2 linked regions of the Homo sapiens genome follow. The protein of the gene in region 1 purifies or fractionates together with the protein of each later gene. This does not show direct contact. Each region holds a gene or a part of one and is shown on either strand. Other genes may lie near its edges.

Region 1 (3,818 bases):
TCCTGCACAGGACTTGACGTTCCGGGTCAGCGATGGACTGCAGGCCAGCCCCCCGGCCACGCTGAAGGTGGTGGCCATCCGGCCGGCCATACAGATCCACCGCAGCACAGGGTTGCGACTGGCCCAAGGCTCTGCCATGCCCATCTTGCCCGCCAACCTGTCGGTGGAGACCAATGCCGTGGGGCAGGATGTGAGCGTGCTGTTCCGCGTCACTGGGGCCCTGCAGTTTGGGGAGCTGCAGAAGCAGGGGGCAGGTGGGGTGGAGGGTGCTGAGTGGTGGGCCACACAGGCGTTCCACCAGCGGGATGTGGAGCAGGGCCGCGTGAGGTACCTGAGCACTGACCCACAGCACCACGCTTACGACACCGTGGAGAACCTGGCCCTGGAGGTGCAGGTGGGCCAGGAGATCCTGAGCAATCTGTCCTTCCCAGTGACCATCCAGAGAGCCACTGTGTGGATGCTGCGGCTGGAGCCACTGCACACTCAGAACACCCAGCAGGAGACCCTCACCACAGCCCACCTGGAGGCCACCCTGGAGGAGGCAGGCCCAAGCCCCCCAACCTTCCATTATGAGGTGGTTCAGGCTCCCAGGAAAGGCAACCTTCAACTACAGGGCACAAGGCTGTCAGATGGCCAGGGCTTCACCCAGGATGACATACAGGCTGGCCGGGTGACCTATGGGGCCACAGCACGTGCCTCAGAGGCAGTCGAGGACACCTTCCGTTTCCGTGTCACAGCTCCACCATATTTCTCCCCACTCTATACCTTCCCCATCCACATTGGTGGTGACCCAGATGCGCCTGTCCTCACCAATGTCCTCCTCGTGGTGCCTGAGGGTGGTGAGGGTGTCCTCTCTGCTGACCACCTCTTTGTCAAGAGTCTCAACAGTGCCAGCTACCTCTATGAGGTCATGGAGCGGCCCCGCCATGGGAGGTTGGCTTGGCGTGGGACACAGGACAAGACCACTATGGTGACATCCTTCACCAATGAAGACCTGTTGCGTGGCCGGCTGGTCTACCAGCATGATGACTCCGAGACCACAGAAGATGATATCCCATTTGTTGCTACCCGCCAGGGCGAGAGCAGTGGTGACATGGCCTGGGAGGAGGTACGGGGTGTCTTCCGAGTGGCCATCCAGCCCGTGAATGACCACGCCCCTGTGCAGACCATCAGCCGGATCTTCCATGTGGCCCGGGGTGGGCGGCGGCTGCTGACTACAGACGACGTGGCCTTCAGCGATGCTGACTCGGGCTTTGCTGACGCCCAGCTGGTGCTTACCCGCAAGGACCTCCTCTTTGGCAGTATCGTGGCCGTAGATGAGCCCACGCGGCCCATCTACCGCTTCACCCAGGAGGACCTCAGGAAGAGGCGAGTACTGTTCGTGCACTCAGGGGCTGACCGTGGCTGGATCCAGCTGCAGGTGTCCGACGGGCAACACCAGGCCACTGCGCTGCTGGAGGTGCAGGCCTCGGAACCCTACCTCCGTGTGGCCAACGGCTCCAGCCTTGTGGTCCCTCAAGGAGGCCAGGGCACCATCGACACGGCCGTGCTCCACCTGGACACCAACCTCGACATCCGCAGTGGGGATGAGGTCCACTACCACGTCACAGCTGGCCCTCGCTGGGGACAGCTAGTCCGGGCTGGTCAGCCAGCCACAGCCTTCTCCCAGCAGGACCTGCTGGATGGGGCCGTTCTCTATAGCCACAATGGCAGCCTCAGCCCCCGCGACACCATGGCCTTCTCCGTGGAAGCAGGGCCAGTGCACACGGATGCCACCCTACAAGTGACCATTGCCCTAGAGGGCCCACTGGCCCCACTGAAGCTGGTCCGGCACAAGAAGATCTACGTCTTCCAGGGAGAGGCAGCTGAGATCAGAAGGGACCAGCTGGAGGTGAGGAGTTGGAGGTGGTGAGCAGGGGTGTGGGCCAGGTAGAGGGCCTTCTCCCAGCCTCCATGCCAGGAACACACGTGACTTGGGCTGTGGCTGTGGTGGCTCCAGGTTACATGTGTGCACGTGCCTCAGATGTGCTCCCGTATATGTTGTGCTCCCAGGAGTTTCTGGGGAGCTTGCTATACACCCATCCTCCTGGGAGTTGTGTGCGCCTCCAGAGGTTGTGTCCACTCATGTGTATGACATGGCTGAGCATGCAGATTCCTGGACCCCACCCAGCCCTACAGAATCTCTGACGTGGAGCCCGAGAATCTCCATTGCAGTCAGTTCCCTGGGAGGACATCACGGGTCCTGAGCTTTGGGGATTGCTGACCGTGGAGACAGGCCGCTACTCCTCAGACCCTCATGTCCCCCACTCTTTTCTCAGAGCCCAGACCTGGGTGGCTTCTGCCCACCCAGGAACCCCACAGAGCAACCACGGGCCCTCCAGCAGGCTCACTGACTTGCCCTGTGACCTCAGGCCAGTCCTTGCCCGCTCTTGGCCTTACTCTCCTACACTGCTCATTTCGGAGACCCTTCTGGTCTGCATGTCTGGAGCTTGGGGCCGACAGCAAGCCAGCAGATCTGGAGTCAGGAAGGCCTCGCGGGAGGAGGCAGCGTTTGGGCCGGGCTCTGAAGAGCACAGGCCATCAGGAGCAGAGAATGGGGAGTGGTATTCCAGGCAGAAGGAACATTCCGGGCAAATGCATAGAACAGGAATGTGAGTTTGGGGGGTGGTTTGGCCTCTTGTGGCTGGCCCATCAGGTGAGGGAGCCCGTGTGGCCTTTGGGGCGTGAGCTCTGTAGGGCCTGAGCTGAAGGCGGCTGTGCCTCCAGGAGGGGTGGGGCGGGGCGCCCTCTGATGGTCCTGGGTGGTAATAGCAGGGGCTGGGGAGGTGCTGCCTGCAAACCAGCCACAGGCCTGAACGGATCCTGAGCAGGGGGGCCTGTGTGTGTGTGTGTGCACACACGCATGTGTACATGTGTGACTGCGTCAGCATATGATGAACTCGTGTGTCTGTGTCACTGAGTCTGGGGACATGTGATTATGCACCTCCCTGAGGGAGTGCATCTCAAGCTGTGTGACCGACCCCCTGCAACCGTGTGTGGGGTGGGCATTAACATGTGACCAGCAGCCGGGGCAACCCAGTGAAACCCCATCTCTACACAAAAAATTTAAAAATTAGCCGGGCCTGGTGGCACATGCCTGTGGTCCCAGCTACTTGGGAGGCTGAGGTAGGAGGATCCCTTGAGCCTGGGAAGTTGAGGCTTCAAGGAACTGTGATTGTACCACTGCACTCCAGCCTGGGTGACAGAGTGAGACCCTGTCTCAAAAAACAAAAAATGTGACCAGCTGCATGTCTGGCTGCTGTGTGTGTGAACCCACGTGTGTGTTTGTGTGTCTAAATGAGCAGTGGTATCTAGAGGAATAAGTGGGGCAAGATCAAGCCTGTTCCGGCTTCTTAGGGCCACAGTGGACCCCTCTGAGACCCCCTCTGTGGCCCCCTGTGAGTCCTTGTGACCTCTGTTAACCAGGCAGCCCAGGAGGCAGTGCCACCTGCAGACATCGTATTCTCAGTGAAGAGCCCACCGAGTGCCGGCTACCTGGTGATGGTGTCGCGTGGCGCCTTGGCAGATGAGCCACCCAGCCTGGACCCTGTGCAGAGCTTCTCCCAGGAGGCAGTGGACACAGGCAGGGTCCTGTACCTGCACTCCCGCCCTGAGGCCTGGAGCGATGCCTTCTCGCTGGATGTGGCCTCAGGCCTGGGTGCTCCCCTCGAGGGCGTCCTTGTGGAGCTGGAGGTGCTGCCCGCTGCCATCCCACTAGAGGCGCAAAACTTCAGCGTCCCTGAGGGTGGCAGCCTCACCCTGGCCCCTCCACTGCTCCG
Region 2 (3,818 bases), on another chromosome or scaffold:
GGGGCCCAGGAATATGTATTGGAAAACATTCCACTGGCAACTTTAATATCTCCATGACAGCTGCCTCCACTCCCTACGTCAACCATGAAAAACTGCTGTCAGCTCCACCACTATCCATATTTCTGGAGTGCCCGTTCTATCTTCCTCAAATTCACCTAGATCTCATTGTTTGGTCAAACTGTCTTCAAAGAGAGTCACCCTTTCCAATGAAGGGTACAAAAGGTTACCAACAAGGTGACTTATCTTAAAATGCAGATTGTTCAGGAAAATAATCCTTTGCAGGCTGTCATGTTCCCTAGCTGTGTGGAATCCTCATTAGCCAGCAGGAATTACTGCAGAGAGATGGCTGGAATGTTCAAAGTAAATAAGATGGAGGGGGGTGTTGTTGGCAAAGTATAAACAGGGTTTTTTTTTGTGTGTGTGTGTCCCCTTTTCATGCCCGTACTCTTTGCAACCATCTATCACCTAGGAAACCGTCAGTTACTCTCTGGCATTTTAAGTTAGAAATATAGTATTTCTTCCCAATGGCCCTGTTTCATTTGTCTTGGCGAGAAGTCCTGGTAATTCAGCCTATATGTTCTTGCAGAGTATTGCCTTGGTCCTAGTGGTTGGCATTTCAAACCAATTTGTTCAGATTTCTTTCTGACCCTAAAATGATCTAAACATAGACAACCAAGACCTCTTACTTTACATTTATGTCATTCTAATTGACTGCAATTGGATAAGAGAGTTCACCCTGAACTTCTCATGTACTCCCAACTTACATTCTTTGGATTTTATCTTTGGTTTTTTGAATTGACGACTTTCTCTTCCTCACTGATATTTCTGTTATGGGTAAACAATTCTAGTGAATGTCTCCTTTAAACACTTTTATCTATATAAAAATTCCATATCTATATATCTGTATATCTTTGTGGGTATGTGTATATAACATCATATAATAGCTGCCATTTATTAAATGCCTAATATCTGCTAGAAAGGACAATTGTCATATATTATATCCTATAACTATCTGACAAGACAGGTATTATTCTCATTTGATAAATGAGGAAAAGAAGGTTTAAAGTAGCTAGCATAAAACTATACTGTTAGAAAGTAACAAAAGTGGGATCTGAAACAAAGCCCATGTTTTTTGTTGTTGTTGTTGTTTTTTTACTATGCCATATAGTATTAAGATCCTCTTAAATGGCTATTTGTGTATACATTTTGTCTTCTATGAGCAAAGTCTTGTAATTTCAGGAATACTGAGTCCAATGAACAATAATGAAGGAATCAAGTCATTAGTATATTAGCAAGTGGGGTCATATGCTGTTAGGGCCCTATGCTTACAATACACATCCAGGCCCACAGAATACTCAACAATATTCAACCATCTCAACCTAGTAACTGGGATTTTGACATAATTCTGTCACCAAGTCTTGAGTACATACCATCCTTTCAACATCTATTGAGCATCTACCATACAAAGAGAGCTGGAGCCAGCTTGCATTGTCTGCTTACTATATGCCAAGAGCCATAGTAAGTACTTCATTCATATATTATCCCAGGTCTTCGAATAGTATGAGGCAGTTATTCTTATCCCTATTTTACAGACAATGCTGTAAAATGAGGCTTAGAGAGCTTAACTTGCCTAAGGTCCAGAGCTATAAGCCATAAGGAACAGAAATGCCTTTCTTCAAAGCCCATGCTCTATCATGTCTCTAACACAAGAGCATAAAACACCAAGTCTTGGCCCCCTCAAAACTTCACAGACCCTAGATCATGTTTTTTATTCAAGGACTTTTCGATCAATCTGCCTCTACATACAAATAGAGGGTGGGTCTCTCATATTCAGTGGGGTTTACTTAAAACTAAACAGGCCCAGTAGGCAACCTATCTGAGTTACAGGTATCCTTTAGATAACGATTTGATTGAAAGAGGTCAATAAGTAAGGTAGTGCTAACAGAGTAGGGCAGAGGTGAAAAGCATAACAGCCTATTTTAGGGATTATAGGATGGTCCAGGAGACACAGGTTTCAGAGTTTGATTGTTTAAACAGAGTGGATGGATGAGGAGACTTTACTAGCGGGACTGACAGGCCACTCAAGTCATGTAAACGCAAACAGAGAGGCAGATGAATGGGGGCAGTGAGGGACCAAGATTTCCCATAGCAGAGTCTAAGGAGAAGGAAAAATGAGGGCTACAGAATGTGCATTAAAAGTGTCACATCTGTGTGTGGGAGGCAAGGGGGCGGCAGTAGATAGGTGCGGGTGGGGGGCTGGGGAGTAGGGGGTTGGAAGTAAGATCTACGGAAGTCAGTATTAAAGAAGCGTAAGGAAAGCCTGAAAAGAAGAAGAAGAAGATAAAAGGAGAACCAATGAGGTCATAAAAGCACGAAAGTGGGAGAGAATTTGCAAAAAGGCCGGGTGCGGTGGCTCACACCTGTAATCCCAGCACTTTGGGAGGCTGAGGCAGGTGGATCACCTGAGGTCAAGAGTTCGAGACCAGCCTGACCAACACAGTGAAACCCATCTCTACTAAAAATACAAAACTTATCCAGGCATGGTGGTGGGCACCTGTAATCCCAGCTACTCAGGAGGCCGAGACAGGAGAATCACTTGAACCCAGGAGGCAGAGGTCGCAGTGAGCTGAGGTGGCACCACTGCACTCCAGCCTGGGCGACAGAGTGAGACTTGATCTCAAAAAAAGAAAAAAAGAAAAGTGGAGAGGAAGGTGTTTTTTTCAGAAGACTGGAGTGAAGGGAGAGACAGGGAACCACTGAATTCTGAGAACAGGGACTGACGTGTATCCCAGCAAGGAAAGGATGCTAAAGGAATCCTTGGCATGTTACGCACTGTACAACTTGCTAAATTTGGTATTATCAGGCACCTTCAGTACTCTAAAGGCTTTTATCTCTGTGTAGGTAAGCCATTTAGCTCTGCAAATGGGTTTACTAAATAAATAAATAAATGCATAAATACATAAATAACCAAGTTGATATTTTTCAAAGCATGTTTTAGTGATTTTAAATCCATAGATCTCATACAAGGTTTAAAAAGGAAAAGGACAGGAGTCCTACATTTGGATTGGTTGCAAAAATCATACAGAGAAAAATAAAGCATTTTAAACCAAAATATCAAAGCAAGGAAATAATTGGGAATTTAATAGCTTATGCATGACCATATTGACTAAATTAAAGATCCTCTGTCATTATTTTCCTCGGTCTTGCTTGAGGAAATACGAATACTTTCAAAGTCCTTTCCAAAGCGTTTCACGGCACACAGGTTCTCCTTTCCCTGACCTACCCCATTCAACCAGAACACAGGACTCTGACTTTCAGAATGCACCTTTCTTAATGGCATTGTAAGTTCCGTCTGTAATTTTTCTTCAGTCAAAACGTTAAAGAATGAATTTGTTGCATGGTAGACGAGATAAATAATTTAGAATTTTAATGTAGGCACGTAAGGGCTCAGAAATTTGGCAAAGCCACAAAAGCGTCTCTGCTCAGCCATTAGCAGCCAGGCCAAGGGGCCGCTGAGCCCCCGCCCGGGCTGGGCCTGAGGTGGGCGGGGCCTCGGGCCTGGCAGGCACAAACGGGGTGGGGTCTCGGGGGCTTCTGCTCAAACACAGCTGCGCAGAGACCCTTCCATCACCCTCCTGGGAAACAGCACAACCATACACCTCCAGACCCTCAGGAGGGAGCCTTCACTGGGTAAGCAAACCAAGGCCATCGAGGCAATCACCTAACCCCGCCAGCCCCCGCCCAATTAAGAACATGCTCTGTATATGAAGGGGATTTTGTAGAAAATTCTTAATAAATGAAGCCCCCGTAATTTACTA

The links.
Region 2: the proteins of CSPG4 (region 1) and NEDD9 purify together in Homo sapiens (co-immunoprecipitation; one study listed by IntAct). This does not show direct contact.

Annotation. Positions count from the first base shown.
Region 1 is NC_000015.10:75,685,349-75,689,166, reverse strand, and holds part of CSPG4 (chondroitin sulfate proteoglycan 4 precursor), read left to right. Parts: coding exon 1-1,891; intron 1,892-3,465; coding exon 3,466-3,818. UniProt on the Homo sapiens protein: Proteoglycan playing a role in cell proliferation and migration which stimulates endothelial cells motility during microvascular morphogenesis. May also inhibit neurite outgrowth and growth cone collapse during axon regeneration.
Region 2 is NC_000006.12:11,225,851-11,229,668, forward strand, and holds part of NEDD9 (enhancer of filamentation 1), read right to left. Parts: intron 1-3,818. UniProt on the Homo sapiens protein: Scaffolding protein which plays a central coordinating role for tyrosine-kinase-based signaling related to cell adhesion. As a focal adhesion protein, plays a role in embryonic fibroblast migration.